Linked DNA regions of Homo sapiens. The protein of the gene in region 5 purifies or fractionates together with the protein of the main gene of each other region. This does not show direct contact. Each region holds a gene or a part of one and is shown on either strand. Other genes may lie near its edges. The genes, in order: DSTN, PRDX6, HEXB, SOD2, SOD1, CENPV and TKT.

Region 1 (3,500 bases), on a different chromosome or scaffold from region 5:
TGTATGTTATTCGGGTGATGGATACCCTAAAAGATCTGGCTTCACTGCTACCATCCATGCATGTAGCAAAATTACACTTGTACCCCCATACATTTATACAAACAAATAAAAATAAAGTTGTCACTTTAAAACACATGCAAGAATCCTGGGAGAAAGATACACTAAGATCCTAGCATTTACTTAATATTAAGGTAACTGGGCTATTTCATCATCTCATTCATTAAAGATCTCTAAATAACACACTCCAATGCCATCTACTCCACATTTTCTGTTCATAAATGAACATTCACTCTAATAAAGTGGCAGAAACAGAAAATTAGGACTAGAAAACTCATAAGTACACAATATTACCACATTCCTAATTTTAAAAAGCACTTTTCTTAAACCTTTTACTGCTTTAGGAGTAGCATATTTCTGATCTTTACAACGTATCTTATGTTAAGCAAGTTAAGAATCTCCATTTTGCAACAGATGAATAAAATGTTCAAAGCAACAAAAATTGAAGAACTAGAAACAGATCCCAATCCCTCTAACTCCCTAGTCCATAATGTTGAAGTCACATTTGACCCAACAAGCAATTTCTAAAAGCAGGAAGGCAACATCTAAAGCCTTATATTCAATCAACCAATCTTTAAATACATCAATCAATATCTAAGCATCTCAAACATTCTAAATTCTGATTTGTAAATTAAATCAATGATGTACTAGTAATCAAAAACAAAGTAAATGTGCATTCTGCAATTATAAAACAGATAAATCTCAGCCAAATCTGGCTGTAACTTACAAGCTCCTTAAAAGCCTCAGTAAGGAAGAATTTTGTCTTTTTTTCTATCAGAAGTGATGTCTGTGGAGGTTTCTTATACCATTAGACACTTGTGCTTGAGGAAATTAACACTGAATACTTGAAGGAGAAACTGGCACAGAAACTGGAAGCAGAAAACCAATTTTGACACAATTACAAATATTCAGAGAAGAAAGCTCTGAACTACAGCAGTGAGGTTAAAAACAGAAAAATTCAAGGACATGTCAAAGTCAAACCAATATAGCTGAATGAGACACAAAAGAGTGGTATCAGAGAAGCCCCAGGATTCTCTCGATTAGTGACTAGACTGCAATATATGAACAGAAAAGGAAATATGGCACAGTACGACACATCCACTCTGAAGACTGTGCAAGACATCTAGGTGGAGATGACCAGACAGTGGCAGAAATATGAGCACGGATCTCGTTGGAAGGCTTCACCTAATCCATATTTTGGACTAGCCCACACCATGGGGTCACCAACATTAAGCAGCAAAAGAAAAACCAATCTAGTTTCTCACCACTGAGTACGTAAAAATTAAAAAGAGAAACCCATCAAGGACACTAAAAAGAGGTAATCAGAAAACTAAGAAGAAAAAGAAGGAAGAAAGCAGCATCTTAGAAGCAAGGGAGAATATTTTGAGGAGGAAAGTCATCAACAGCCAATTCTGCAGTATTTCAGAGAATGAAAACAGATCGCTGGGCTTGGCAATTGGGCCTCTGAACATTTCAACAGATGGGAGAAATGGGACAGAAGTCAACCATAATGGACTGGGGACCCATGGGGAATTGAAGAGGTAAAGACAGAAAACATAAGATGGTTAACAATGAAGAAAAAAGGGAAGATTGAATGGTACTTCATGCAAGTTGTCTTATGATTGGGGAGATGTAACTGTTCTAGATATTTAAGAACTTGAAGGAATAAAGAGGAAGAGCCAAAACATTAAAAAAAAATTAAAACATACACTGAGTACTTACTATTGCTAGACACTTCTAAATCACAACAATTCTATGAGACAGCTACTATCACTATTTGCATCTTAAAGATGCATAGCAAAATTAAATAATTTGCCCAGGGTCACAGAGTAAACAATAGAGGAATTGGGATTTGAACTCTGGCAATTTGGCTCCAGAGGAGATTTTTTTTTTTTTTCCAGATGGACGTTCGCTCTTGTCATCCAGGCTGGAGTGCAATGGCACCATCTCGGCTCACTGCAACCTCTGCCTCCTGGGTTCAAGCAATTCCAGAGGAGATAATCTTAATCACTCATAAAATTAACAATATCAGAGATCTAAAGAAATGGGTAAGATCCACAGCACAGATGGGAGAGTTAGCCTAAGAAAAAGATACACATTTTTTTCTCTGAAACAGGGAGGAAGGGAAAATGACAGTTTTGAGGTGGAAGGAAGATACACTGCCAAAAATTGTGTCTGAAAGATTCTATTTTCTCTGTGAAGTATAAGGCAGGAGGAGTAGGATGGGTTTGAGGGCACTCCTCCAATCTACTACTACTAACAATTCAGAACAGCTATGACGGGGAGTTCCAAAAGGAACTACCTAAGGACAAGAAAAAGGGCTCTGGGGACCTCCAAAAGGTCAGCTGAGGTCAAGGGGTGAGGGTGGTAGGACAATGCAGTGGAAAGCAGAGGCTGATGGCAGTGTGGAAGGAAAGGACGAACTCTGCATTCTTCCTCAGAGAGTTTACCCAAGCTCAAGCTTTCAATCATCTAAGCCAAAACTTAGTTCAGACTTCTGCTCTTCTGAGCTTCTAGTCTTTACATTCAACTTCCTATCTCACATCTCCAGTTGTGTGTCTCAAAGGCATGTGATGCACAACATGTCTAAAATAAAAAACAAGCTGGTCCATTTCTAACCAGTCTTCCTTTCTCAGTAGCTATCACCACCCTCCTAGTCACATAAGGCTCCAAGCCTAAGAGATGTTCTTAGCAACTCCTCCATTATCTTACTCTTTGGATTTTCATCTTTCTCTGATACATTCATCTCATTTCACCCTCAGTCCAAGCTTCCATTGCCTCTTACTTGGACTGCAGTAACTCCTCAAGTGGCTGCAGAGGAGGGAGATTAGGATATGTATACATCATACTGTTTTCTCTTCTTGGCTGAACAGGAAAGACTGCATTCCCCAGCCTTCCTGGCAAGCTGAGTTGGCTGTATGACTGAGTTCTGAACAGCCATTTGAGTTCTGAACAGCCAAGCTGGGCCCAGTTATGTAAACTACTTCCAGTCCTGGCCCTTTAAAAGTGATCTTTAAATACACTAAATACAGCTTTTTAGATGTGAATCCTACCACAATAAAATGATTTTTAAAACATCAAAAATTAAATAAAAGTTAAATAAAAGTGATCTTAAAGCTCTGTTTTCTCCCACCAAGATGACCTTGGTAAGCATACTTCATGATAGGAGAAGGCTGCCCAACCCTTCTGGACTCTGCGTGACAGAGACAAATCTTTACTGTGTTAAGTCACTGAGATTTTGAATTTAATTTGTTATTGCAGTTCTAATACAACAAGACTGCCCATACCAACTGCCCATCACCTTTACCCTCCAATTCATCCTCTACATAAACATGAATCTGATCACCATACTTAGAACAGTCCAGTGGCTTTCCATTGATCTGAAGGTAAAAAATAGCTATTTATTTATTTATTTATTTATTTATTTATTTATTTTTGAGATA
Region 2 (3,500 bases), on a different chromosome or scaffold from region 5:
CACTGTGCCCGGCCAGGAACGATATTAATGAAACATGTGGGCAACTCTGTACATAAACTATTGATAGGAGAGTGAGGAACTTAGTTGGATAGAGTTTAGCAAGTAATGGAAAAGAGGATTTAAAATTGGAATAACGTCTATTGTGTGTAGGCTTGAAAGTAAAACAGGGGCTTGATGGCATAGCAGATACAAAACCATTGTGGATTTCTCAACGGAGATGTGACAAATGTGGCATTAATGAGCTCTGAAGTGGATAACAACAAATTCTTTTTATTTATTTATTTTTTTGAGGTGGAGTCTCTGTTGCCCAGGCTGGAGTGCAGTGGCGCGATCTCAGCTCACTGCAGCCTCCACCTCTCGGGTTCAAGCCATTCTCCTGCCTCAGGCTCCCGGATGATAACAAATTGTAACATTCCTTCATTTTATTATCTTAACTTTCTGTTGTCACTGGCTGCTTATGAAGTCACCAGAGCTAAATAATAATTAATATAGTCTCATGCTAGAGGCAGATTATTATATAATCAGTTGTTTGTCAAAGTTGCGGCACTGCTTCTGATAGTTCAGACTTTTTTCCTATTCAATGTAATCACAATTCTGAAAACTTCTAAGGCAGAAGCTCAGCAGGTAAAATAAACCTGAGTATGCGTCTGTCCTTTAAAAGGTATTATATAATGGGCTATAACCGCTTCCTTTGGCAATATGTCACTTTAATTATTGCTGTGCACTAATTCTCTACTCTGCCACTTGCATCATGGGCATTAGATTACACCCATGAACACCAAAGAACCTATCCTAAATTATTTGGCTTTATTCTATCCTAAATTAGGCTAAATCCTACTCTTTATCATCTTGCATTAAAAAGAACATTGATTTGAGGTTGAAATCTCATTGCCATTGGGCAGTCTTGGGCAAGTCCCTCCAACTCTCTGAGTGAAAAAAGTATGTTCAACTGCAAAAACGAAAATGAAAAATGATAGCAAAAACTACAGTTACCACTCACTGAGAAGTGTAAGGAATGAAAAAAAATTCTACTTCAAGACAGATAACTGCCCTTCTTTTTTCTCCTACACATGATTCTTCTAGTCTCAGATATTTAGGATTAACTGGCATTAACTGCTATAGGATGCAGCCACAGACCCCTAACTCACAAGTCAATACATCTTTTATTCAACTGCACGTTTGACATAGTTTCTAGTATACATCCCTCAAAAAGTAGTTATCATTATTACTTAACAGCACAGTGCAGTCAAGTTCTTAAAATGTTTTCAAGGTAAATTCAGACCACCAAATTTACTGTTCAAGTAAATTCTTTTGCTAGAAGTAGGTATTTCCTTCAGTTAATTCATTCAACAAATATTGACTGATCGCCTAGGATATACTGAGTAGTGAGCATTGTTCCAGCAGTGCACTAAACAGGAGTCTCTGTTCCTGCTGAGTTTATACTCTACTAGGAAGAAACAAACAAACTAAATAGGTAGTATGCAGAGTGCTGAGGAGAAGGGGATGGTGAACGTGAAAAGGAGTTATAATTTTAGATAATGAGGACAAGAAAGGCTTTGATGAAATGTCCTGTGAGTTGAGACCCAAAAGAGGTGAGGGTAAGTCACACAGATCCCTGGGAAGTGAGTCTTCTATCTATGATACAGGACATATTTTGAAGGTAGAGCTGACAAGTTTGAGGATAAATCAGATGTATGATGTGAAAAAACATGAAGAATTCAGAATGGCTCCTGGATTTGGGGTGTGAACAACTATAAAAATGTAGTTGCCATTAGCTTAGATGAGTAAAACTCTGGATCTAAGAATGAGGCCTAGTTAGACATGCTAGGTTTGAGATGACTGGACATCCCAGGAGAGATGCTAGGTAGGCAGTGGTTATATGAACCTGGAAGAGTCTGGCATAGAGATGAAAATTTGAGAATCACAGCACATAGATGGTATTTAAAGGTGAGTGGATGAGCTCACCAAGGGAAAGAGTGCAGACAGAAAAGAGATGAGGTCCAAGAAATAAGTTCAGGGTAACTTCAGCATAAATTAGGAGTTGGGAGATGAAGAATCAGTGAGCAGGAACAGCTAGAATGTGGTGTCCTGGAAGTCAAGAAAGGAAAAAGTTTCAGGAGGTACAGTGATCAGCTGGGTTGAATGCTGCTGGCAGGCCAAGAGGAGGGCTGAGAATTGACTGACCAATGGATTTAGCAATGTGATCACTGTGTGGTTCAACTGAAATTTTCAAATAATTAGTGAACTTTGAACCTAAGGCTTACTTGTACCTTAACCTCAAAACCAAGTACTCCATAATTTATAACTTGACCTATAATCTCAGGCTCAAAGCACATGCCAATTGATACTAACCTTGCTCCAGGCAAGATGGTCCTCAACACTGTCTATTGAAAGGGCAATCAACTTAACATTCCTCTTGGCAAATTCTGGTGCCAGCTTTGCAGCTCTGCCAAGCTCTGTGGTGCACACTGGGGTAAAGTCCCGAGGGTGGGAGAAGAGAATGCCCCATCTGAAAGGAAGAAAAACAAGGTCACAATTGAATTAAGAGTTATCACCAACATCACAGAGAATGAAAAGTCACAACTTCTGGATCAAAAACAGGCTTTCTTTTTTAAATGAATGCTTATGATGATATTTACTTTTAAGCTTTTCTGTTGAGGAGTGCTTTTCAATCTACTTACCTCCAGAGAAGCCTATGCTTATAGCCCAATTCAATCAAAGACATGAAATTCAAGATGACACATATTTAAAAAGACTAATGTTAAGGTGTTGCCTCCTTTAATAATTATGGTGCCACCCTGACTCCTTTTTGGCTAATACAATCTGTGCTATTCAAGCCAAGTAGTTCACTGAAAACACTTAATTATTTCTTCTTATCCTTTTCTACATTTTTTTCTAGCATAGACCCTGACATTCAGCTCCAATAATGGATGTCCCAGTATGCCCTGAATCCAAACAAATGCCTGACTGCAATAATAAACAAATTATGTAATCTGAAATAAATAGGTTTCTATCTTCTATTTATATGTAAAAATTAAAGTTGACACTTGGCTTCTCTGAAGCAAGTGGATATAAAATCTTTTGTAAAACCACTTTACTGATCTTACCTGCCAAACATGACACCCAATATTTATACTCTGACAAAACAATAGCACCTTCACAGTTTTACCTATCTCTTCATTTGCAGTTTCTTTTTCTTCTTTCTTCAGACCAAGCAGGTAGAATTTTGATAGCCTGCAATGTAGATTTCTACAACAGCAAATTCTTAGGTAAATACTAATATCTAAGTCATCATTGTCTAAGATTTTATAATTTTGAGCACATTTCAAGCTGTCACGAAGAAAGCTGAAGTACCATTTCCTTCTTCTTGGCAACAGAAACTACTCTTTCAACTGAAAAGGAAAATTTAACACTCAGTTCTCCACATCCCCATCAACTTAAACCATCCTAAACCAGATGATTTAGGCAGGATCCTAAACTAGTAGATAACTAAATCTAGC
Region 3 (3,500 bases), on a different chromosome or scaffold from region 5:
TGTATTTAATATTAATATTAATATTTAATGCCTTTACAATATTTAATGCCTTTACAGAATTTTTATTTAATATTCTCTGATTTTTGGATACCAACAAAAGGTACTTTTTTTTTTTTTGAGATGGAGTCTCGTTCTGTCACCCAGGCTGGAGTGCAGTGGTGCGATCTTGGCTCACTGCTGCAACCTCCACCTCCCGGGTCCAAGCAGTTCTCCTGCCTCAGCCTCCTGAGTAGCTGGGATTACAGGCGCCTGCCACCATACCCAGCTGATTGTTTGTATTTTTAGTAGAGACTGTGTATTTTTAGTTTCACTATGTGGGCCGGGCTGGTCTTGAACTCCTGACCTCGTGATCCTCCCGCCTTGGCCTCCCAAAGTGCTGGGATTACAGGCATGAGCCACTGCAGCTGGCCAACAAAAAGTAAATTTTAAAGGCTCTGGTGAGAATTCTGGACCTTCTTTTGGGGCTTTATATGTAAGCTAGGATACTTTTGCAGGAAGGTAACAGGAACTCTGACTCAATCTGGCTCAAACAATAGGAAAACTTATTTCACACATTAGGATGTCCAAAAGTAGGGATGAATTTAGGGCAAGTTGACCAAGTGGCTCAACAGTGTTACCAGGGATCCATATTCTTTCCATCTCTGCTCTGTCCACTTTAGTGTAGTGGCAACTAGTCCAGCTCTCACATACAGAGAAACGAAGTTTTCTTGTGATTTGCTCAGAACTCCCCCTAACCCCCACATCCTATCACTGGTCAGAATTGGTTTTTCATTCCCAAGAGTGATGGATTACCATGATGGTTTCATTATTGGTTCTTAACGGGGCTTCATATGTCACTTCAGAGTGTGGGGAAGCATTTAAAATTCCCATGCCTGAATCCCATTCTAATAGATTCTGATTCTGAAGGCATGGACGTTGGGATTTTCAAAAAACTTCCCAAGTGATTCTAATGTACAGCTTGGGGTGAGAATCTCTAGTTGGACTTACAATGGGCAGCATGGATTTGAGGAGTTAACTACAATGTTACTAGCACATCTGTTTTAAAAATTTGGCTAAAATCCTTCTAAAATGTGTTTACATTTATTTCTCAAACAGATATCATGGCTATATTTTTGGTTTCTACAAGTGGCATCATGAACCTGCTGAATTCCAGGCTAAAACCCAGGTTCAGCAACTTCTTGTCTCAATCACCCTTCAGTCAGAGTGTGATGCTTTCCCCAACATATCTTCAGATGAGTCTTGTAAGTACCTATGCAATGTGAGTGTATTATATCCCAGGTGCTCGCTGACGGACTTAAGTGCCAAAAACTGACTCCATGCTAGGAACCACTGAGTTCTCAACCAGTGAGTTTATGATTCCTATTTTAAAAATAACCTTTAAAGTCTGATTATAAAAGTAGTACATAGTCTTTGTGGAAAATTTATTAAGTACAGTAAGTGCAGAAGAAGAAATAAATCACTCATAATCCCAGCAGATAGAATTAATCACTGTCATTTTAGGTGTATTTTTTTGCAGAGTAAAACATGTAAACATTTTACATAGACATAAATACAAACATGATAAGCATTGACATGAAAATGGCAGTAATTCTGTACATGTGCTTCTTGTATTTTTGTTGTATTTTTATATCATGCTTTTTTGCAAAATACATTATAAATTAAACATGAATTTCACTAGTTTTCTGTGATATCATTTTCAATGGCTGAATAATGTTCTGTCACTATATGGATGAGCTGACTTGGGTAATCTCTTTTGGACATCTAGGTAATTTCTTAACTTTTTGTCTTTGAAAACATCTGTATCCATGATCTCTATTTATAATCTAATTTTACAGAAAGATAATGCAGAGCTAGGGGAGAGGGTGGGTACAGCAGTTTCATTTGTAATCTGCTGTACAATATAATCAACATTTAGCTGTATGATTTTGTCCTCGTTGTTGCCTAAAACGTTATTCTCTAGGGCTTTTCCCAAATTGTTTTAGAACAAATAAGTGGGCGTGCCATTTCTATAGGGTATACTGCCTGAGAATAATGTGGAATTGCACCAAGGAATCAAAGAAGGGCAGTATAAGGACATGTGTAATATAAGATTCGTGCAAGAAAGAGCAGACAGGGGAACTAAGTGTAAAGATAGAGGCTGGACGCTGTGGCTCATACCTGTAATCCCAGCACTTTGGGAGGCTGAGGTGGGTGGATCACTTAAGGCCAGGAGTTCAAGACCAGCCTGGCCAATATGCTGAAACTGCATCCCTACTAAAAAATACAAAAAGTTAGCCAAGCGTGTTGGTGCGTACCTGTAATCCCAGCTACTCGGGAGGCTGAGGCAGGAGAATCACTTGAACCCAGGAGGCAGAGGTTGCAGTGAGCTGCAATCATGCCGCTGCACTCCAGCCTGGGGGACAGAGTGAGACAGTCTCAAAAAAAAAAAAAAAAAAAAAAAAAAAAAAAAAAAAAAAAAAAAAAAAAAGATAGGATGCCACAAATTTAGAGAAAAGAGCAACTCCATTACCCCCAGACTGCCTCACAGTTAAGTACATGTCTTCATCCTGCTGGTTTAGATGAGATTTCTCAATAATACATCTCTTTGAAAAAAAGCTTTCTTTCTCTTCAATTCCATAGCTGTTCTTAGAAGAGAAATAGGAAAATTCACCAACATCAGGTATCATTTCAATTGATACTCAGCACTCAGACACCATGTGAAGTAGGTTTTGCAACCTGAATTGAGATGGAAATGGTCATTACGTTGCCAAGGAATCTTTGCTGTCCATTGGCAATACAGATAACAGATTGTAAATTCCACAAAATGAAATGTATCGAGACTAGAGAGTCATAGCTTATCTTTCAGTCAGTTCTACAAACCCTCTTTATTCTGAAAGGGAAGTTTCTTGAGACAAGGTTATTGTGAAATTTTCAGCTGAAGAATAAACTAGTTTTTAGTCTTTAAACTAGTTGATGATGATGATAAAAGTAACACATATGAATGGAAATAACAAGATATCAAATGTCCAGAGTGGGAGGACATGTTGGAGGAGGTGACACATGTTAAAGCACCACTATTTATTAAAAATAAAAATATGCATGCCCTGAGAAGTGGACTAGTTTTTACTGCAGATAAATGGACACATAAATCAAGGATGTTTGATGCAGTTTGCCTGTAATGTGAAGAACTGTCAATAAAACTCAATGTCCATCAATAGAGGAATGGCTAAATACATCTTGTCAATCTATACTAAACAGTATAATCACAACAGTTAAGAATAAAGAAGCAGTATTACTGAGAACACACATGGAGAACTGACAAGATAAACTGCTGAGTTGAACAAAGGAAGCTGTATAATTATGTGTAGAGGTGGACCCTGTTTATATATCAACACACGTGCAGGAACACACGCATAAAGCAATACTATATTTTCTCCTTCCGTGTACATCTATGTCAAGCCTAAGAAAATGCCCGATAAGTATTTCCTCTGAGGAAGGTAGAGGGAGTTAGGTGAGTATCT
Region 4 (3,500 bases), on a different chromosome or scaffold from region 5:
TCCATGTGCTGATGAAAAGAACGTGTGTTCTGCAGCTATTAGAGTGTTCTGCACCTATTAGAATGTTCTGTAAATGTCAGGTCCATTTGGTGTAAAGTGCAATTTAAATCCAATATTTATTGGTTTTATGTCTAGAAAATCTGTCCAATGCTGAGAGTAGAGTGAAGTCCTCAACTACTATTGTATTAGAGTCTATTTCTCCCTTTAAATCTAATAATATTTGCTTTATATCTGGGTCATCCAGTGTGGGGTACATATATATTTATAATGATAATATCCTCAGGCCTGGCACAGTGGCTCATGCCTATAATCCCAGCACCTTAGGAGGCCAAAGCAGGAGGACTGCTTTGAGACCCAGAGTTTGAGACTAGCCAGGCAACATAGCATAACCCCATCTCTACAAAAAAATTTTCTTAATAAAAAAATATGATTATATCTTGCATGAATTGATCCTTGTTTCATTACATAATGACTTTTCTTTTTACAGTTTTTGACTTAAAGTCTATTTTATCTCATGTAAGTATAGTTATTTCTGCTCTTTTTTGGCTTCCATTTGTATGCAATATCTTTCTCCATACCTTCACTTTTGGCCTGTCTTTACAGGTGAGGTTTCTTGTAGGCAGCATACAGTCGAGTCATGATGGTGGTTTTTAATCCATTCAGTCAATCTATATCTTTTAAGTGGGAGAATTTAATCCATTTACATTCAAAGTTATCATCAATAGAGGTGCAGACTTTTTAAACAAATCTCTTCCCAGGAGAATCACTTGTTTTTTGAGAGACAGGATCTCTTTCACCCAGACTGGAGTGCAGTGTAGACTCACACTGTAATCACAGCTCACTGTAGACTCCAACTCATGACCTCAAGGGATCCTCCCAACTCAGCCTCTCAAGTAGCTGGGACTATAGGGATGTGCCAGCATGCCCAGCTAAATTTTAACTTTCTGTAGAGATGGGGTCTTGCTTTGTTGCCCAGGCTGGTCTCAAACTCCTGGACTCAAGAGATCCTCCTGCGTTGGCCTCCCAAAGCACAGAGATTACAAGTATAGGCCACCACACTCAGCCTTGATAGGTGAAGACTTACTTGTGTCATTTTTTAAATTGTTTTCTGGTAAAAATGCTAACAGTAACTAGGAGCTAAAAGATTCATTTGTTTTTTTCCTCCAGGCATCCACTCTGAGCCCCAGTGAAGAATGGTGGCAGCTGTAAGCACTACCAGCAAGTATACCCTACTGGTTGGAGAACTTTGTTTAAAGGATATAAGTTGTGTGCCTTCTGTAAATGACGATTTAATAATATCAATATCCATTTATCCTCTATAATCATAGTCAATACACAGAGAAAACCAAAAAATGCCAGACTTGGGTTGGGTTCCAAGATGGCCGAATAGGAACAGCTCCAGTCTACAGCTCCCAGCGTGAGCGACGCAGAAGACAGGTGATTTCTGCACTTCCAACTGAGGTACCAGGTTCATCTCACTGGGGCTTGTTGGACAGTGGGTGTAGGACGGTGGGTGCAGCCCACTGAGCATGAGCTGAAGCAGGGCAAGGCATGGCCTCACCCGGGAAGGCAAGGGGTCAGGGAATTCCCTTTCCTAGCCAAGGGAAGCTGTGACAGACGGCACCTGGAAAATTGGGTCACTCCCACCCTAATACTGCGTTTTTCCAATGGTCTTAGCAAACGGCACACCAGGAGATTATATCCTGTGCCTAGCTCGGAGGGTCCCACGCCCATGGAGCCTTGCTCATTGCTAGCACAGCAGTCTGAGATCGAACTGCAAGGTGGCAGTGAGGCTAGGGGAGGGGAGCCCACCATTGCTGAGGCTTCAGTAGGTAAATAAAGCAGCCGGGAAGCTCGAACTAGGTGGAGCCCACTGCAGCTCAAGGAGGCCTGCCTGCCTGCCTCTGTAGACTCCACCTCTGGGGGCATGGCATAGCCGAACAAAAGGCAGCAGAAATCTCTGCAGACTTCAATGTCCCTGTCTGACAGCTTTGAAGAGACCAGTGGTTCTCCCAGCACAGAGTTTGAGATCTGAGAACGGAGAGACTGCCTCCTCAAGTGAGTCCCTGACCCCCGAGTAGCCTAACTGGGAGGCACCCCCAAGTAGGGGCAGACTGACACCCCACATGGCCGGGTACCCCTCTGAGATGAAGCTTCCAGAGGAATGATCAGGCAGCAACATTTGCTGTTCAGCAATATTCGCTGTTCTACAGCCTCCACTGTGATACCCAGGCAAACAGGGTCTGGCGTGGACGTCCAGCAAACTCCAACAGACCTGCAGCTGGCGGTCCTGACTGTTAGAAGGAAAACTAACAAACAGAAAGGACATCCACACCAAAACCCCATCTGCACATCACCATCACCAAAGACCAAAGGTAGATAAAACCACAAAGATGGGGAAAAAACAGAGCAGAAAAGCTGAAAATTCTAAAAATCAGAGCGCCTCTCCCCCTCCAAAGGAACATAGCTCCTTGCCAGCAACAGAACAAAGCTGGACGGAGAATGACTTTGACGAGTTGAGAGAAGAAGGCTTCAGATGATCAAACTTCTCCAAGCTAAAAGAGGAAGTTCGAACCCATCACAAAGAACCTAAAAACCTTGAAAAAAGATTAGACAAATGGCTAACTAGAATAACCAGCATAGAGAAGTCCTTAAATGACCTGATGGAGCTGAAAACCATGGCATGAGAACTACGTGACGAATGCACAAGCTTCAGTAGCCAATTCGATCAACTGGAAGAAAGGTTATCAGTGATTGAAGATCAGATGAATGAAATGAAGTGAGAAGAGAAGTTAAGAGAAAAAAGAGTAAAAAGAAACGAACAAAGCTTCCAAGAAATATGGGACTATGTGAAAAGACCAAATCTACGTCTGATTGGTGTACCTGAAAGTGACGGGGAGAATGGAACCAAGCTGGAAAACACTCTGCAGGATATTATCCAGGAGAACTTCCCCAATCTAGCAAGGGAGGACAACATTCAAATTCAGGAAATACAGAGAACGCCACAAAGATACTCCTCGAGAAGAGCAACTCCAAGACACATAATTGTCAGATTCACCAAAGTTGAAATGAAGGAAAAAATGTTAAGGGCAGCCAGAGAGAAAGGTCGGGTTACCCACAAAGGGAAGCCCATCAGACTAACAGCTGATCTCTCAGCAGAAACTCTACAAGCCAGAAGAGAGTGGGGGTCAATATTCAACGTTCTTGAAGAAAAGAATTTTCAACCCAGAATTTCATATCCAGCCAAACTAAGCTTCATAAGTGAAGGAGAAATAAAATCCTTTACAAACAAGCAAATGCTGAGAGATTTTGTCACCACCAGGCCTGCCTTACAAGAGCTCCTGAAGGAAGCACTAAACATGGAATGGAACAACCAGTATCAGCCACTGCAAAAACATGCCAAATTGTAAAGACCATTGAGGCTAGGAAGAAACTGCATCAACTAACGAGCAAAATAACCAGTGAACATCCTAGTGACAGGATCAAATTCACACATAACA
Region 5 (3,369 bases):
AGGCAGAGGTTGCAGTGAGCTGAGATCGCACCACTGCACTCCAGCCTGGGCAACAGAGCAAGACTCCATCTCAAAAAAAAAAAAAAAAAAACCCCACCAAGTTCTAACTACTGTCTGACACTTGTAAAGTTAACACCCTTCTCTGGGCTTTGGCTTCTTCACTGTAAAAATAAGGGACCAGACTGATCTTCAACAGTTTTTCTATTATTAAAATCCCATGGTTATGATCCAAATTCTTAAGAACGTAGTATACTTTACAAAAAACTCATCTCCCCAGCAACATATGCCAAGCAGTTCTATCTGTGCCCTTTACTTGGTGCAGGCAGAATATTCAACAGCATCTTATGTGCAAGGGCCAAGGCTGCTGCCTTACACAACTCGAGGGGGCGGCATTCCAACTGTATCCTGTGTAGAAGGTGCTGCTGTGCACCAGGGGATGACATTCACAGAGCACAACCTCGACAGCACAGGAGGCCCTTTCATAACACGGCTGTCTTCAGCCACGCTCTCACCCGCAGGAGTCCCACACAGGGAGAAAGGCAGGCAAGTTACAGGAAGCAGCAGAGCAATCACCTCCCAGACCAGAGGCGGTAAAGCCAAAAAGCAACTCGGGGGAATTTCAGCAATTACAGAAATGGATCAAATCTGATCATTACAAATCACTATTTGAAACTAAATTAGCAAGATGAATAAAGTTAATTTAAGAAGAAATCTATAAACAAAAAAATCAGATTATTACTCAAATATGGCAAAAGATCACTAAATGCAACTTAACTCATAAACTTCTGTTAACTTGCTTCCAATCCCAAATTAAGAAAATAAAATTTGGCAGTTTCTCTGAACCTACTCTGGTTCAGGGGTTGCCTGATTTTTTAAAAATACTTTAAAAAAATTTTTTTTAAGCATATTCCAAAGTACCAATAATCCTCTGCATTCCATCTTCAGTTTGTATCATACTTTGGTCCCACTAAGAAGCCTGTGTTTGGGGTGTAGAGCTACTCTTACATGGCATTATGCAAATAAATGCAGCCCCTTTGCTCGAGGCACCCACCCTCAACCCCCAGCTCAAACACCTGGGATCATTACAAAAGTTAAGAGCCCAAGTTTTTATTTCCTATTTGCCTTCTTTAAAAAACACCCTCTTCTGGCTGGGTGCGGTGGCTCATGCCTGTAATCCCAGCACTTTGGGAGGCTGAGACAGGCGGATCACGAGGTCAGGAGAGAGACCATCTTGGCTAACACAGTGAAACCCCGTCTCTACTAAAAATACAAAAAATTAGCCAGGCGGGGTGGCGGGCACCTGTAGTCCCAGCTACTCAGGGGGCTGAGGCAGGAGAATGGCATGAACCCGGGAGGCGGAGCTTGCAGTGAGCCGAGATCGCGCCACTGCACTCCAGCCTGGGCCACAGAGTAAGACTCCGTCTCAAAAAACAAACAAACAAAAAAACACCCTCTTCTACAATGATGCTGTAAGACAAAACATCAACTCTTTCCCTTTCTTTTCCACACCTAGGTATCAAAGCCCAGTTTTGTGGCTAATCTTAAGGTTGATCTTCTTCTCTTTTTTTGGTTTCTAAAGACACACTACACCAAATCTTAAGACAAAGGGCACTGGACCTTCAGAAGCAGGTCCACCCCAGTCTTCACAATCTAGTGCAGTTACTTTTCTTGTGTGTACTCTGCTGGCATTATTACAAAAATCAGGATATGGTCCCAGTTCCTGCAATTTTAGCACAGTGCTTATATACAATAAAGTTGACCTCTTTTTTAAAAGAAAAGTTGAGGGTTTTCCCAGGCACAGTGGCTCACACATGTAATCCCAGCACTTTGGGAGGTCGAGGAGGATAGACCACTTGAGCCCAGCAGTTCAAGACCAGCCTGGGCAACATGATGAAACCCCACCTCTAGAAAAAAATACAAAAATTAGCCAGGCGTGGTGGTGTGTACCTGTAGTCCCAGCTACGGGCCAAGGCATGAGGATCAATGGAGCCTGGGAGGTCAAGGCTAAGGTCAGCCATGATCGCACAGCGCCACTGCACTCCAGCCTGAGCGACAGAGCAAGACCCTTTCTCAAAAACAAAAACAAGTTGAGGGGTTTTAACGTTTAGGGGCTACTCTACTGTTTATCTAACTAGGGTGAACAAGTATGGGTCACCAGCACAGCACAACACCCACCTGCTGTATTATCTCCAAACTCATGAACATGGAATCCATGCAGGCCTTCAGTCAGTCCTTTAATGCTTCCCCACACCTTCACTGGTCCATTACTTTCCTTTAAGAAAAGTGCAAAGTTGGAGAGAGTTTCTGAACAAAGAAAACAGCTGATTTACCTTTACCCCTCACAGTGAAGTAAAAAGCAGCCAGACTTGGGAGTGGAAAAATCTGTGTCCAAATCCCAGGCTGACCACTTTCTAGCCAGTGAACCTCCAGCAAGCTGCTTAACTGCTCTAGGCCTGTGTCCTCAAAAGGGAGATGGTAATCTTGTTCCCACACTCAATGCACAAGCACCCTGTGGCCAGGCTTCATGATTAAATAACATAAAAAGCACCTAATAGAGTGGCAAGCAAAGTGAGTACCTACACATCAGTGTTAGATACTTCATAGGCTTTGACTATTACAGTAAATAGGTAATGTAAGTACCTATTTATGTAGTAAATACTTTTGAATAGGTTATATTTGTACATGTTGAATATACATGTACATGTAAACGTTTTTTATTTTGAGACAAGAGTCTCGCTCTGTCGCCCAGGCTGGAGTGCAGTGGCATGATCTCAGCTCACTGCAAGCTCCGCCTCCCGGGTTCACGCCATTCTCCTGCCTCAGCCTTTTTAACCCAAAAGGTGTATGTCTCATCCTACACTCTGGAGCCCCTTGCTTTTTCTCCACGCACACCCTTTTCCATATGGCATACTCACTTGACTTTAAAAAAAAAAAAAGAAAAAGTCGCCCTGGAAATGTCCAACAGGCTACCCTGGGACCCCTGCTCTCCACTCCCCACTCAGTGAGTGTTTTTAAGTGTCCATCATAAGTTTTTTTCTTTTTTTTTTTGAGACGAGTCTCGCTCTGTCGCCCAGGCTGGAGTGCAGTGACATGATCTCGGCTCACTGCAAGCTCCGCCTCCCAGGTTCATGCCATTCTCCTGCCTCAGCCTCCTGAGTAGCTGGGACTACAGGCGCCCACCACCACACCCGGCTAATTTTTTTGCATTTTTAGTAGAGACGGGGTTTCACCGTGTTAGCCAGGATGGTCTCCATCTGCTGACCTCGTGATCCACCCGTCTCGGCCTCCCAAAGTGCTGGGATTACAGGCGTAAGCCACCACGCCCGGCTATCACAGGTATTTTTAATTAGCAGTCAGAAAATATTATAT
Region 6 (3,500 bases), on a different chromosome or scaffold from region 5:
ATACAGGCGTGCGCCACCAAGCCTGGCTAATTTTGCATTTTTAGTAAAGATGGGGTTTCTCCATGTTGGTTAGGCTGGTCTCGAACTCCCGACCTCAGGTGAGCCACCATGCCTGGCCTCAGATAGATAACTTTCTAAGAATTAAATGTCTTCCCATTTGCACAGGATTTCATACTTTTCAACTCTTTCCTGTTCTGCAAGGTAGACAGGAAGGAGTCTCCATGTGACAGATGAGGAACAGGAGGCCCTGAAGCAATGGGGGAGCGGTAAGGATGACATCCTGCCCTGCCCTGCCTCCCCCACCTCCCCTGTCCGCTCCCCACCACCATAAGGCAAAAGACACTGACAGTCATAGCTGCTCTCGCAGCTCTGGAGGCTGCACTGACACAACAAGAGTCCTCAGAACATCTTCCACCTCTGCTTTCCCCTTCAATTCACACTATAGTTGGTATGATTCTCAACAACTGTCAGAGGGTTAGTTTTATTACTCCCCAGACCCAAGCAGGCCCTGAAGCGGGGCTTGGAGGGTTCCCTGCTTGTTTATTATTTTTTAAAAAGAACAGAGATACGGTTTTGCTATGTTTCCCAGGCTGGTCTCAAACTCCTGAGCTCAAGAAATCCTCCCACCTTGGCCTCCCAAAGTGCTGGGATACAGGTGTGAGCCACCGCAGCCAGCCAGTCCTGCCTAATTTTTGAACAACCAAAAAGCTTTCAAATGCCATTATCAATGCTCCCCAATCTTGCCTCCTTCACTCCCTTAACCCCTGTCATTATTAAAGCTGCCTCCCCTGGCCCCACAAGCCCATCTCCTCACCCCTCTCCTCCCTACCCTTCAACACCATCCCCAGCAACACCAGCTCTACCAGCACCAGTGAATAAGAATCACAACCTGGATGGGCTCCAAGTCCAACTTCACCACATTCAGATATGGGATTCAGAAAAGTTTCACCGGAGCCCGACTCACATTCTATCATGTGGAAAGCGCTCTGCTGAGGAGCCCTGTTCCTCTAAGATACGCATGTGACAGGGTCTAGTCAGCATCCCACCTGTCCAAATAAGACTTTAAATGAGAGCACCATGGGCCTCTCTGTGTCCCCCTGAGCTTGCAGTCCATCCCCTTTACTCACCGAAGCCTCCGGGGTTTGATCGTGGAGTATAGAAGCTCTGAACGCCACATCTCTTACAGAAGGTATGCTGGGCTTTGTGAGTATTGAACGTGTAAGTCGTTATGTGCTCAGCTCCCTAGGTGAAAACAGACAAACGGTATTCTTTTTTACAAAGAGATTTATTTATTTAATTTATTTATTTATTTATTTATTGAGACAGAGTCTCCCACTGTCTCTCAGGCTGGAGTGCAGTGGCGCAATCTTGGCTCACTGCAACCTCCACCTGCATGGGTTCAAGAGATTTTCCTGCCTCAGCCTCCCAAGTAGCTGGGATTATAGGCGCGTGCCCCCATGCCCAGCTAATTTTTTGTATTTTTAGTACAGACAGGGTTTCACCATGTTGGCCAGGTTGGTCTCGAACTCCTGACCTCATGATTCACCCACCTTGGCCTCCCAAAGTGCTGGGATTACAGGTGTGAGCCACTGCGCCTGGCCCCAAAGACATTTATTTTTATGTCACTTAAAAAATACACCTTTGTAGCCGGGTGTGGTGGCAGGCGCCTGTAGTCCCAGCTACTCGGGAGGCTGAGGCAGGAGAATGGCATGAACCTGGAAGGCCGAGCTTGCAGTGAGCCGAGATCATGCCACGGCACTCCAGCCTGGGCAACAGAGCGAGACTCCGTCTCAAAAAAAAAAAAAAAAAAAACACCTTTGGCCAGGCATGGTGGCTCATGCCTGTAATCCCAACACTTTGAGGCCGAGGCAGGCGGATTGCTTGAGCCCAGGAGTTCAAGACCAACCTGGGCAACATGGCAAAACCCTGTTTCTACAAAAAAATATAAAAATTAGCCAGGTGCAGTGGCACACATCTGTAGTCCCAGCTACCTGGGAGGCTGAGGTAGGAGCATCAGTTGAGCCTGGGGAAGTAGAGGCTGCAGTGGGCTGAGATCGCACCATTAAAAAAAAAAATCTTGAAATAACTTAATGGCAGGAGCTCTTCTGTAGGGCTCTTTGTACTAAGAGGCCATTTCCTATCTCCAGAAGAGACTGGGACCTTCTTGAGGACAGAGACCCATCTACACTATCCAGAGACATGTCAGTCTGGAGCGTGACAGCTCACAGCTTCCCTTAGGTCAACGGCATACAGAATTCAGCCTTGAGCCTTCCCTGATACATCACATCAGGGAGGGAAAGTGCTTGCTTCCCAGGGCCTATGTGGAGAGACAGTTCACCCAAGGGACTGGCTCTCCATGTCCCCAAACAGAACGGCTCAAGGTCTTAAGAAAACTGATGGCTGTGCTTAATTTATCCACAAAGGACAAACCAGGAAAAAAATATTTGCCAGACGTCATAGACAGGCTAATTTCCTTAATGGATAATACAAACGGGAGACTGGACAAAGGACATGAACGGACAGTTCAGATAGAAAGAAAAATAAATCACTCTTTAGCCTATGAAATGCTCACCAAAGGAACTTCAATGAGATGTATTTCACTGTCAGGTGGGCAAAATCAAAGCCGTTAACATGGTATTGACAAGTATGTAGAGAAATATGTGCTCACATATATCAGTCACAGGAACAGGAATTGGTACAATTTAGCAACATCTACCAAAATTTTAAAGTGTACATATGCTTTAGCACACAATTCCATTTCTTGAAATTTATTATACAGATATATTCCAAATGTCTCAATGACATAGGTATATAGATACTATAGCACTGTTTATGAAGGCTAAAGATTGGAAAAATTGAAAATGTCCCTCAATAGAGGACCGGTTAGGCATTATGGACACTCATAAAATGAAATATTCTCCAACTTTTGAGAAGAATGAGACAGCTCTACAAAACTAACATGGAACAATTGCCAAAGTTACAAAGTAAAGCAAGGTATAGGCCAGGCGCAGTGGCTCACGCCTGTAATCCCAGCACTTTGGGAGGCCAAGGTGGGCAGATCACTTGAGGTCAGGAGTTCAAGACCAGCCTGGCCAACATGGTGAAACCCTGTCTGTACTAAAAATGTAAAAATTAGCCAGATGTGGTGGCGGGCACCTGTAGTCCCAGCTACTCAGGAGGCTGAAGCAGGAGAATCACTTGAGCCTGGGAGGCGGAGGTTACAGTGAGCCGAGATCACACCACTGCACTCCAGCCTGGGCAACAGAGTGAGACTGTCTCAAAAAAAAAGTTAAGCAAGGTATAAAACAACGTACGTGGTATGCTACCATTTCTTTTTTTTTTTTTAAGGCTATATACTGGTATGTGTGGTGTTTTTGTTTTGTTTTGTTTTGTTTTTTTGAGACAAGATCTCACTCTGTTATCCAGGCTGGAGTGCAGTGGTATGACGACAGCTTACTGCAGCCTTGACCTCCCAGGATCAAGTGATTCTCCCACCTCAG
Region 7 (3,500 bases), on a different chromosome or scaffold from region 5:
AGTGAGCCAAGATCGCCGCCCCACTGCACTCCAGCCTGGGTGACAGAGCGAGACTCTGTCAAACAAACAAATAAATGAAGAAAAAGGTGCTAGGAGAGCTCAGTAGAGGAAGTTCTTGGGCGTCCACACTTCCCTTCCAGCTGTGTAGTCCTCGGAGATTCCACCCAGTGCACAAATGCAACTGACTTCTGAGCAACCCCCATCTGCAGGTGGGCTCACCCCAGCTCCCAGCACATCCTCTCTCCCCTACCTTGCCTCTCCATTCAGGGCAGGAGCAGAGCCTGCCTGAGGACCTAGCTCTGTGCAGGTCCCTGACCTCTAGAAGTGTCCCCAGCACCCAGGGCAAACTGGTCTGTGGCAAGAAGGGAGTTCCTGATTTTGTGGAACTAGGCGACAGTGACAACAAGCCTGCCACAAGAGACAATGAATGTTGAGGGGTCAGAGCCACAACAGGGGCCGGACATCAGTTAGAGTCCATAGGAAGCCACGACAAAGTCTCAGCCAGATCCTAACTAGGTGCTGTACTTCACTTCCAGTTTCTTAAAACACCGACCACCAGCCCTGCAGAGGAGAGGTCACTCGGGCAGAGAACCAAGCCACCCCAGGGTGGCCAGTGTCTTCACACTGAGTGAGGAAATGCTGCTGCTGGGGCAATCTCAACGGTCATGCTCTTGCCTCAGTCAGGGCCAGGATGGGTCCTGAGGCAGCCCAAAAACAGAAACAGGCCCAGAGAGGCGGAGCCACATGGGGCCAGAGACCCCAGGAGGCCCTCAAGCCTTCAGCCAAAGCACCTGGATGTCAGAGCTGGGTAAACTGGGATACAACCCCAGCCACTTTAAGGGCACAAAGAGCACCAGGATGTAAAATCAGCAACAGCGGGCGGTGGGACCCCGGAGCCCACTCACTCCATCCCCAGCCCTACTCCTGAGGCACCCAGTTTGAAACCACCTATCCATGAACCTCTCCTTTCAAGATGGAGAAAATGGCCTGTAATCCCAGTACTCTAGGGAAGCTGAGGCAGGTGGATCGCTTAAGCCCAGGAGTTTGAGACCAGCCTGGGCAAAATGACAAAACCTCAACTCTACAAAAAATACAAAAATTAGCCAAGGCATAGTGGCTCATGCCTGTGGTCCCAGCTACTTGTGAGGCTGAGATGAGGGCATCATTTGAGCCCAGGAGGCGGAGGCTGCAGTGAGCAGAGATCACGCCACAGCATTCTAGCCTGGGCAACTGAGAACCTGAGATAGGAAGGTTTTTTTGTTTTGTTTTGTTTTTTTAAGAGCCAGGGTTTCACTGTTGCCCAGGCTGGAGTGCAGAGCCATGATCATAACTCACTGCAGCCTTGAACTCCTGGGCTCAAGTGATCCTCACACCTCAGCCTCCCAAGTAGCTGGGACTACAGGCACATGCACAGCTCTTTCTTTTTTTTGTAGAGATGAGGTCTCACTATGTTGCCCAGTTTGGTCCTGAACTCCCAGGCTCAAGCAATCCTCCCACCCTGGCCTCCCAAAGTGCTGTGAATACAGGCATGAGCCACCGCACCTGGCCGGAAGGGCCTTTCTGACAAAGGCACAGCCACTAGGAACAGAGCCAGGGTTGGACTCATCTCCTGTGTCCACCAGCCAGGACTGGCCAGGCATTAACCTCCCCAAAGCTGTGGGTCAGAAACCCTGGGGGGACTTGTTGAAAGCACAGACCACCTTCCCTTTTGAATCAGGCCTGACTGTGATGGAGTCCTCAGATGACACTTGCACTGTTTGGATAACACCACAGTCTGGCCCTGGTGAGAACTGAGAAATCTTTGCCACCAGCCTCAGCATCCAGGCCACTTCTGACAAGGCCACTGGGGTTTTGTTTTTTTAAAGCCAGGATGAGCTGGACCCTTGCCATAATTCCTTCAGCCCATGGAAGGAGATGACCCCAGAGAAGCTCTAGCCACTGTGGGCGCTGCCTCAACAAAGAGCCTTCTGTGAGGTCTGTCCCTTCACCTCCAGGCCCAACTCCTGACAGAGGCCAGTGTCCCTGCTTCCTGGGCCTGGTGAGGTTCACTGCACACGGGTCAGCAATGGCATAGGAATGGGAAAGCTATCGAGAAACGAGCCTGGGTCCTCACAGAATGTACAAATCCTGTCTCAGTAAGTGGCCAGCAAAAGATTGGACCAAAGCTAGACATGGTAGCACATGTCTGTGGTCCCAGCTACCCAGGAGGGTGAGGCAGGATTGCTATAGCCTAGGAGTTCAAGACTGCAGGGAGCCATGACTGTGCCTCTGTACTCCAGACCTGGTGGGTGACACAGCAAGACCCTGTCTTAAAAAAAAAGAAAAAAGGAAAAGGGGCCAGGAGCGGTGGCTCACGCCTATAATCCCAGCACTTTGGGAGGCCGAGGCGGGCGGATCACCTGAGGTCAGGAGTTCAAGACCAACCTCAACATGGAGAAACCCCGTCTCTACGGGGTAAAAATACAAAATTAGCCGGGCGTGGTGGTGCATGCCTGTAATCCCAGCTACTTGGGAGGCTGAGGCAGGAGAATTGCTTGAACCTGGGAGGCGGAGTTTGTGGTGAGCCAAGATCGCACCATTGCACTCCAGCCTGGGCAACAAGAGTGAAACTCCATCTCAAAAGAAAAAGAACTGGATCAAAGTCCTGTGAGCTCCCCCAGAAAAGGGGACATTCTGACAAACTGTCACTTTAGCTGTGACTACAGCCCAGATTGGGCCAGGGCTTCCGGACTGAGCCTTCACTCTATGCCTCATTGCAGAGAGGGAACAGTGGGCCTCAAGATAAACATCTGGGGACAAGAAACAGAAGACTACCTGTGTCTCAAGTCTTCCTTGATTAGCTTTTGGGTGCAAACACACACATACTCTTGGCTCACAACTTTCAAAATATGGGTTGCATAGCAACGTTATTTCCTTCTGAAAAATAAGTTTTCCCTCCTTTTTTGCATATTTTAAACATATACATACACACACACAGTCACTGTATTTTACATATCCTTTTTTTCTTTTGCAAATGGATATTTTTTGAGTTCAGTGAGCTTCCCTCTCCAAGACATTACAATGTAAACATGGTGTAACTCTCGGACACCACAGTATGTTTCCGGAGGGGTAACGGCGGTGAGGAAATCAGACTTTGCCTAACAAAGAACTAGGAGACACACTTGACATTCCACTCTTTTGGAGCACCCTACATTTGTAAATCTTATTTCTCTCCAAGTGCCTTTCAGACTGACTAATATCCACCGCGGCTGTACCTGGCCTTCCCTTTCACCTTTTTCACCATTCTCCAGCCTGGCACAGACTGCTTGCCCAAGAGGCATTCTTTTTTTTTTTTGAGAAGAAGTTTCAATTTTGTTGCCCAGGCCAGAGTGCAATGGTGCAATCTCAGCTCACCGCAACTTCTGCCTCCCGGGTTCAAGTGATTCTCCTGCCTCAGCCTCCTGAGTAGCTGGGATTACAGGCGCCCGCCACCACGTCCAGCTAATTTTTTGTATTTTTAG

The links.
Region 1: the proteins of SOD1 (region 5) and DSTN purify together in Homo sapiens (affinity purification with mass spectrometry; 2 studies listed by BioGRID, with this or other methods). This does not show direct contact.
Region 2: the proteins of SOD1 (region 5) and PRDX6 purify together in Homo sapiens (affinity purification with mass spectrometry; 2 studies listed by BioGRID, with this or other methods). This does not show direct contact.
Region 3: the proteins of SOD1 (region 5) and HEXB purify together in Homo sapiens (affinity purification with mass spectrometry; 3 studies listed by BioGRID and IntAct, with this or other methods). This does not show direct contact.
Region 4: the proteins of SOD1 (region 5) and SOD2 fractionate together in Homo sapiens (co-fractionation; 2 studies listed by BioGRID). This does not show direct contact.
Region 6: the proteins of SOD1 (region 5) and CENPV purify together in Homo sapiens (affinity purification with mass spectrometry; 2 studies listed by BioGRID and IntAct, with this or other methods). This does not show direct contact.
Region 7: the proteins of SOD1 (region 5) and TKT purify together in Homo sapiens (affinity purification with mass spectrometry; 3 studies listed by BioGRID, with this or other methods). This does not show direct contact.

Annotation. Positions count from the first base shown.
Region 1 is NC_000020.11:17,594,075-17,597,574, reverse strand, and holds part of DSTN (destrin), read right to left. Parts: intron 1-3,500. UniProt on the Homo sapiens protein: Actin-depolymerizing protein. Severs actin filaments (F-actin) and binds to actin monomers (G-actin). Acts in a pH-independent manner.
Region 2 is NC_000001.11:173,480,335-173,483,834, reverse strand, and holds part of PRDX6 (peroxiredoxin-6), read right to left. Parts: intron 2,510-3,500; coding exon 2,353-2,509; intron 1-2,352. UniProt on the Homo sapiens protein: Thiol-specific peroxidase that catalyzes the reduction of hydrogen peroxide and organic hydroperoxides to water and alcohols, respectively. Can reduce H(2)O(2) and short chain organic, fatty acid, and phospholipid hydroperoxides.
Region 3 is NC_000005.10:74,688,233-74,691,732, forward strand, and holds part of HEXB (beta-hexosaminidase subunit beta isoform 1 preproprotein), read left to right. Parts: intron 1-1,095; coding exon 1,096-1,241; intron 1,242-3,500. UniProt on the Homo sapiens protein: Hydrolyzes the non-reducing end N-acetyl-D-hexosamine and/or sulfated N-acetyl-D-hexosamine of glycoconjugates, such as the oligosaccharide moieties from proteins and neutral glycolipids, or from certain mucopolysaccharides.
Region 4 is NC_000006.12:159,669,242-159,672,741, forward strand, and holds part of SOD2 (superoxide dismutase [Mn], mitochondrial isoform A precursor), read right to left. Parts: 3' UTR 1-3,500. UniProt on the Homo sapiens protein: Destroys superoxide anion radicals which are normally produced within the cells and which are toxic to biological systems.
Region 5 is NC_000021.9:31,662,693-31,666,061, reverse strand, and holds part of SOD1 (superoxide dismutase [Cu-Zn]), read right to left. Parts: intron 2,273-3,369; coding exon 2,176-2,272; intron 1,757-2,175; exon of another isoform or gene 1,580-1,756; intron 1-1,579. UniProt on the Homo sapiens protein: Destroys radicals which are normally produced within the cells and which are toxic to biological systems.
Region 6 is NC_000017.11:16,343,470-16,346,969, forward strand, and holds part of CENPV (centromere protein V), read right to left. Parts: intron 1,243-3,500; coding exon 1,128-1,242; intron 1-1,127. UniProt on the Homo sapiens protein: Required for distribution of pericentromeric heterochromatin in interphase nuclei and for centromere formation and organization, chromosome alignment and cytokinesis.
Region 7 is NC_000003.12:53,249,523-53,253,022, forward strand, and holds part of TKT (transketolase), read right to left. Parts: intron 1-3,500. UniProt on the Homo sapiens protein: Catalyzes the transfer of a two-carbon ketol group from a ketose donor to an aldose acceptor, via a covalent intermediate with the cofactor thiamine pyrophosphate.